Linked DNA regions of Homo sapiens. The protein of the gene in region 1 interacts with the protein of each later gene in a pairwise test. Each region holds a gene or a part of one and is shown in the gene's direction. Other genes may lie near its edges.

Region 1 (3,648 bases):
TTTACTGCTTTTTACCGACTTCAAGACAGTAGAAACAGGGATATAATGAGCCATAGGGGAGTTGACTTACGTGATCCTAACACAGTCAATCCTTATTATTTGTGGATTCTGTGTGTGTGAATTTGCCTACTTGTAACCCCAAAGTCAGTATCTGTGGCACTTCCACAGTCATTCTTGGACATGTGCAGAGTGGCACGTTTGAGCTGCCCATGGCACGCATTTCCAGGTGAGGTCGAATGACCCTGCCTGAGGTTGACTGTCTGCTGTCTTGTTTCAGCTCTCATCCTCTAAACAAGTGCTCCTTTCGTGGTCTGTTGAGTACTTTCTACATTTTTGTGGTTTCTGTTGGTGATTTCGCTGTTTAAAATGACCCCCAAGCATAATGCTAAAGCACTGTCTAGAGTTCCTGAGGGCAAGAAGGCCGTGATGTGCTTACAGAGAAAATACATGTGTTGGATAAGCTTCGTTCAGGCATGAGCTACAGTGCTATTGGCTGTGAGTTTAATATTCATGAGTCAACAACATATATTACATAAGGTGACCTTCAACAGAAACATACATAAAACAAGATTAAGTGTTGTGACTAGGGTCTCACAGGAACCTAACTTGTAATTCCCCTGGGAACAGTGCTTCAGTGTTCACCAATTCAGTGTTCACAGTGACTTTGTAGAACATAAAAAAAATAAGTACTGACTATACCACGTTAAACAAGAAGATGCCTTAGTATTTGTAGGGTCCGGGAAGCAGTTGATGGTCAAAATCTGTGTTTACAGGGAACTTGGGAACACCCAGAGGATCTTATATTAAGGACATAATTCCTGGAGATAGTTATAAATAGTGGAATTATAGCATATATATCTTTAACTTAAACTATACACCATTAGAAGAAGACATACTAATTTTATTAATATGTGCCATTTGTGCGTCATCCTACTCAGTGGGTATATGCACCAGTGTAAGCCGGAGATGGGGAATTCCTCTTTGGTATCAACTCCTGGAACTTCTCTCAGGGGCTTGGCGTCTCTTGTTGAGTGAAAGGGCACTACTTCCTCTGAAATGATCCTCAAAAACAGACTCCCTGTTATGGACCAAAGGGGGTTTGTGAGGGTAATTTTAATTTGCTGACTTTGAACACAACCTATCTGTAAGAGTCAGTGACACCATATCTTCTTCTTGAGTAGGCTGACCCACCTTTTACTAGATTTTGCCATAAAGCAAGGGTTGTCTTTCAACTTTTCCAGTGCAACTATTCATGGAGTTATTTTACGAAACAGCAATGAGAAGTATGACACCCTAGCGACCATTGTGTTTCACCTAGTGGTGCTCCTCCCGGACGTTGAACTTTTCAAACAGAGCAATTCACTTATAATAATGGTCTCCAGTCTTCTGAATGCTTATATTTTGAAATGCCACATCTCTCATTCACTGCAGTGATTCCTCAGCTGTGGGGTGGGGAGGTGGGAAGCCACTTCCCTGTTGGGGTGCATTTTAGATTCTGGGTAGTGAAGTAGAGGTAGTGTGTAATTTGAAAGCCCTCCTTTCCCCTCCCCTCCTCTACTTTGGCTTTTGTTGTTGGTTTTATGTTCTGTCTCTTCAATAAGTAGCTATAGGTATTTAATCTCTCGAACATAGTCTGCCTATTTATAAAAGCAGCTTGTGGGCCGGGCACGTGGCTCACGCCTGTAATCCCAGCACTTTGGGAGGCCAAGGCGGGTGGATCACAAGATCAGGAGTTCAAGACCAGCCTGGCCAAGATGTTGAAGCCCCATCTCTACTAAAAATAGAAAAATTAGCTGGGCATGGTGGCGGGCGCCTGTAATCCCAGCTACTCGTGAGGCTGAGGCAGAGAATCACTTGAACCCGGGAGGCAGAGGTTGCAGTGAGCCAAGATCGCGCCACTGCATTCCAGCCTAGGCGACAGAGTGAGACTCCATCTCAAAAAAAAACAAAAAAATAAAAATAAAAATAAAACCAGCTTGTGGCCGGGTGCGGTGGTTCACGCCTCTAATCCCAGCACTTTGAGAGGCCAAGGTGGGTGGATCACGAGTTCAGGAGTTCGAGACCAGTCTGGCCAACATGGTGAAACCCTGTCTTTACCAAAAATACAAAAAAAAAAAAAGAAAAGAAAAGAAAAGAAAAATTAGCTGGGCATGGTGGTGGATGCCTATAATCCCAGCTACTCATGAGGCTGAGGCAGGAGAACCCGGGAGGCAGAGGTTGCGGTGAGCTGAGATTGTGCCATTGCACTCCAGCCTAGGCTATAGAGCAAGACTCCGTCTCAAAAAACAAACAAAAAAAAGCAGCTTGTACTAATGTGTTGTTTCCTTCTACAAGTATTAAAATGTAATAACTATTTTGAAAGAGAAGCTAGGTTTTGTTTTATTTTAGGGTTCCAAACATGTATATTCATATGAAATACGAATATTGTGAAATATGTGCATTGGAAATTCCATGGTGACGATATCTTGGTTTTCTTCCAGTGACGGTGTGAGGCAGCCTTTAGAACTTTTGCATATCACAGAAAACATTATTAATTAGGAAAGCTCTGTGATGCAATTAAGCCAGAGTTCTCTAGATGAGATTTATCACCTTATTTAGAAATCTGAGTAATGCTTTAATCGCTGATAAATATTTTTAATTAGACAACAAAGGATTAGAGTGAGATGTTTGCCTCTCTTAATCCAACTTTATTATTCTTTTTCTGAAAAGACAATCTGCCTGTGTGGAGGTACTGTTCTTATTAGCATGTTGGTGTAGATTTACAAGAGTCCATGTTTTCAGTATGGGCCTAAGGGCTTTCTTTCATTTTCACTCTAAGTGATGCATGCAAAAGTTTTCACAGAAGAAAGAGCATGAATCCTTTATGTCAGTGGAACTGCCATTTTATTAAATAGCCCAGGGCTTTCAAATGGTGCCTGAAGAAACTTGTGTTTCTGGAGATTATGTAAAGGAACTTGAAGGTACTTGTGTGACATGTCAAGCTCCTGGCTTTTACTCATATTGTATCCAAAGAAGGATTTTGCAGACCCAAAAACCTTGAATTTAGACTGAAACGTGGCTTTGCAGGCACATATGTTTCTCAGCTTGTGGGCAGAGGTTGAGAGGCCATGTCATATGGAGAGTCCTTCCCCTCTCTGATAAGGAAAGGTGACTTGCTTCAAATTTATATTCTCTTGCTATATATTATTGTTTCACAACCGTGGAAGGGATAGCATTGGAATGGAGAAGCAGAATGCTTATCAGGAATCAATTAAAGTCTGTGTGGTTCATTTTAGGAGTGCCCAGGGATACACTCAGAAAGGAAAAAGGGAAAGAGCTTGCTTGGAAGGCATTTTGCAATGAGTTACAGGGGGAATCAAGGGTATTTAGGAAGTGTATTACCCAGCTAGTGCTGCTGTAGTGAAATGCCACTGACTGGGTGGTAAACAAGAGTTATTTTCTCATAATTCTGGAGGCTAGTTGTTGTCCAAGATCAAGTTGTCAGCAGGGTTGGTCCCTTCTGAGGCCTCTCTCCTTGGCTTGTAGATGCCTGTCTTCTCCCTGTGTGTTCACATGGTCTTTTTTCCTGTGTGTGTCTGTCCCAATCTCCTCTTCTTACAAGGACACCAGTCCTATTGGGTTTAGGCCCACTAGTAAAATCTCTTTTTA
Region 2 (3,648 bases), on another chromosome or scaffold:
CGTCTGCGTCAGCGTCGAGTGGGGCTCCTTCAGCGATGATGGGGCGCTGGGACCAGTGCTGACCACCTTCGACCATACCCTGGACCATGAGTCCCTGAATCCTGGTGCTCAGAGGTGACCTGGCAGGGGGCCCTGACCTTTGGTTCCAGGCCCTGTCTATGACTGCTCTGCTCCCAACCCCTTCTGTCCCTGTTCTCAGGCCCTTAGGCCCCTCCCTGTCACTCTGAGGGTCTCCAGGGAGCAACCTGGGGGCCCTGGCCAGGTTCAAAGAAGGAAGGGCCCAAAGTTCTAGAATCCAGAATTGTCAACCCTTGATCTTCCCTGTTCCTGACTCTGGCCTGCCCTGACAGTTTGGGGGTTGAGGGCTGGAAGTGGTTGAGCAAACTGCTCTCTGCCTTCCTTTGGGTCCTTCTTGTTCTCCAGGAGGCTTCTGAATGTAACCTATGTCAGAGGGGGCAGTGGGGTCTGGGCATACACCCACCTGTCCTCTGGGAGGCTATTCGTTGCTTCTGGAGTCTCCAGTTTGGGAGCCCCAAAGAAAAGAATCCTTCTTTGGGAACTCTTGGAGGTAGGGCCAGGTGGACTGAGGGCTTAGAAAAGGCTTCCTCCAGCCACCCTTCCCCCCTGCAGGTTTGAGAAGATGATCGGAGGCCTGTACCTGGGTGAGCTGGTGCGGCTGGTGCTGGCTCACTTGGCCCGGTGTGGGGTCCTCTTTGGTGGCTGCACCTCCCCTGCCCTGCTGAGCCAAGGCAGCATCCTCCTGGAACACGTGGCTGAGATGGAGGAGTGAGTCGGGGAGATGGTGGTTTAGTGGGGGATTCTTGGCTTGGAGGAAGGGGATGATACTCTGTTCCCAAGGTAGCCATGGGGCTTTAGTGGGATGGGGAGCTTCTGGGCTGAGCCCCAAACCACTTCCCTTTCCCCTCCAGCCCCTCTACTGGGGCAGCCCGTGTCCATGCTATCCTGCAGGACTTGGGCCTGAGCCCTGGGGCTTCGGATGTTGAGCTTGTGCAGCACGTCTGTGCGGCCGTGTGCACGCGGGCTGCCCAGCTCTGTGCTGCCGCCCTGGCCGCTGTTCTCTCCTGCCTCCAGCACAGCCGGGAGCAACAAACACTCCAGGTTGCTGTGGCCACCGGAGGCCGAGTGTGTGAGCGGCACCCCAGGTATTGTGGAAACGTGATCCGCATGATTAGTTGGCATGAACACGTGTGTGTGATACACACCCAGAGGGCCCTCTGGGATCACATGTGCAAGCCAGTGGACACGAAGGGCACTTAGGCAGAGGGAGGGCCAGACTGAGCTATGGGAGGCCAGAAGACATCCAAGGAGAGAAACGATGCTTCCCTTTGTGTGTGCAAGGGTGGAGGCCATGGCGACACGGGGGCGTATGGCTGGTGCACAGAACAGATTTCAAATTGAAGTGATAGGGGAGGCTGGCTATGGTGGTACACGCCTGTAATCTCAACACTGGGAGGCTGAGGTGGGAGGATCATTGGAGCCTGGGAGTTTGAGGTTACAGTAAGCCATGATCACTCCGTGGCACTCTAGCTTGGGTGAGAGAGCAAGACTCGATATCTACAAAAATAAAAAAAAAAAAGTGATGGGGCCTTGGGCTTCAGGAGGCCCTAGGGGTCTGGGGCCAAGCTGGGCACACCTGTATGTATCTGGGGGTCCAGGGCCAAGCCGTGCACACCTGTGTGTGTCTGGGGGTCCAGGGCCAAGCCGGGTGCACCTGTATGTATCTGTAGGTTCTGCAGCGTCCTGCAGGGGACAGTGATGCTCCTGGCCCCGGAATGCGATGTCTCCTTAATCCCCTCTGTGGATGGTGGTGGCCGGGGAGTGGCGATGGTGACTGCCGTGGCTGCCCGTCTGGCTGCCCACCGGCGCCTGCTGGAGGAGACCCTGGCCCCATTCCGGTTGAACCATGATCAACTGGCTGCGGTTCAGGCACAGATGCGGAAGGCCATGGCCAAGGGGCTCCGAGGGGAGGCCTCCTCCCTTCGCATGCTGCCCACTTTCGTCCGGGCCACCCCTGACGGCAGCGGTAAGGACCTGGCCTGAGTGTGGGACCGAAACATGGGCTCCTGGGGGTCCCAGTGTGTGCTGGGGCTGGAGCCACAAGCCCTATCCCGGCACTGAGGGTCTCTGCCCCCACAGAGCGAGGGGATTTCCTGGCCCTGGACCTCGGGGGCACGAACTTCCGTGTCCTCCTGGTACGTGTGACCACAGGCGTGCAGATCACCAGCGAGATCTACTCCATTCCCGAGACTGTGGCCCAGGGTTCTGGGCAGCAGGTACCCACAGCCTGAACCTTGATGTCAGAGGTGGGGAAGGGCTGAGCAGTGCCTACGCCTGACCTGTCCTGCCCCACAGCTCTTTGACCACATCGTGGACTGCATCGTGGACTTCCAGCAGAAGCAGGGCCTGAGCGGGCAGAGCCTCCCACTGGGTTTTACCTTCTCCTTCCCATGTAGGCAGCTTGGCCTAGACCAGGTGAGGGAGGGCCAAGAGAAGTGATTCCCAAGGGCCTCCTGCCCCCACATACCCTTCATGGAGTGGGCAGGAGGCAGGGGAAAAGGCTGGGCGGTGGCGGGTCTGGGGTTGGTGGTGGTGGCAGCACTGCTGGGCTGGGCTTGCACACAGCCTCAGTTTCCCCAGACAGGGTAGGCCCAGGGTTAGGGTCTGAACCATTTGGGAGCAGGTCAGGCCTAGACTGGGGCTGATCAGAGGACAGATCGTCCATTTTAGCTATAGCACTGGTGTGTGGGCCTCAGGGTCCTGCAGGAACCAGCATTTGTTCCTGTCTCTAGCAGGGGCTTGAGGTCGCTTGGGGTTTTTTTGGCCTCTCTCCTCCTCCTTTCTTTGTTTCCTTCTCAGTGCCTGGCTCAGTGTTGGGTGCATGACTAGGGTGGCAGAGTGCCAGGCACAGGCTAAGACACACATCCCTACTCAGCACACACTTTAGCTTGTTCTTACACAAGGATGAGGGACTTCTCAATGTGCACACCGGAAGCCTGTCACGGAAACAATACCTCCCGGGCCTCTGGTCCAAACTCCCAGGAATCTCCCTTTCAACATACCCAACTTCTGCTTGAAAGCCTCTTGCCAAGGAGCTCACTGCCCCTGAAGGCAACAGTTGCATTCTTAGACACCTGTGATCAATGAAAAGCTTCATCTCACCTACTCCAACCAGCCTCCATGTGATTTTCACCCCCTGCTCCTGCTCTGACCTCTCTCTGATATGCAACTCATTTTTTTTTTTGAGATGAAGTCTCACTCTGTCGCCCAGGTTGGAGTGCAATGGCATGATCTTGGCTCACTCACTGCAGCCTCCACCTCCTGTGTTCAAGCAATCCTCCTGCCTCAGCCTCCCAAGTAGCTGGGACTACAGGCACATGCCAACACGCCCAGCTCATTTTTAGTAGAGATGGGGTTTCACCATGTTGGCCAGGCTGATCTAGAAATCCTGATCTCAGGTGATCCGCTCACCTCAGCCTCTCAAAGTTCTGGGATTACAGGCGTGAGCCACCGCACTCCACCTGATATGCAACTCTGTACTCTGCTTTCTTTTACACGGTGGTCCTTTGGATGGTGCAGTGGGCCAGTCTTGCTGCTTGGCTGCTCTGCTCCAGGCTAAGCCTGCTCAGT

The links. Proteins that work in one complex are often made in the same cells at the same time.
Region 2: the proteins of MITF (region 1) and HK3 interact in a two-hybrid assay, tested with the Homo sapiens proteins (one large-scale study listed by BioGRID and IntAct).

Annotation. Positions count from the first base shown.
Region 1 is NC_000003.12:69,959,445-69,963,092, forward strand, and holds part of MITF (microphthalmia-associated transcription factor), read left to right. Parts: intron 1-3,648. UniProt on the Homo sapiens protein: Transcription factor that acts as a master regulator of melanocyte survival and differentiation as well as melanosome biogenesis.
Region 2 is NC_000005.10:176,885,847-176,889,494, reverse strand, and holds part of HK3 (hexokinase-3), read left to right. Parts: coding exon 1-114; intron 115-630; coding exon 631-786; intron 787-929; coding exon 930-1,163; intron 1,164-1,748; coding exon 1,749-2,044; intron 2,045-2,157; coding exon 2,158-2,294; intron 2,295-2,373; coding exon 2,374-2,493; intron 2,494-3,597; coding exon of another isoform or gene 3,598-3,648. UniProt on the Homo sapiens protein: Catalyzes the phosphorylation of hexose, such as D-glucose and D-fructose, to hexose 6-phosphate (D-glucose 6-phosphate and D-fructose 6-phosphate, respectively).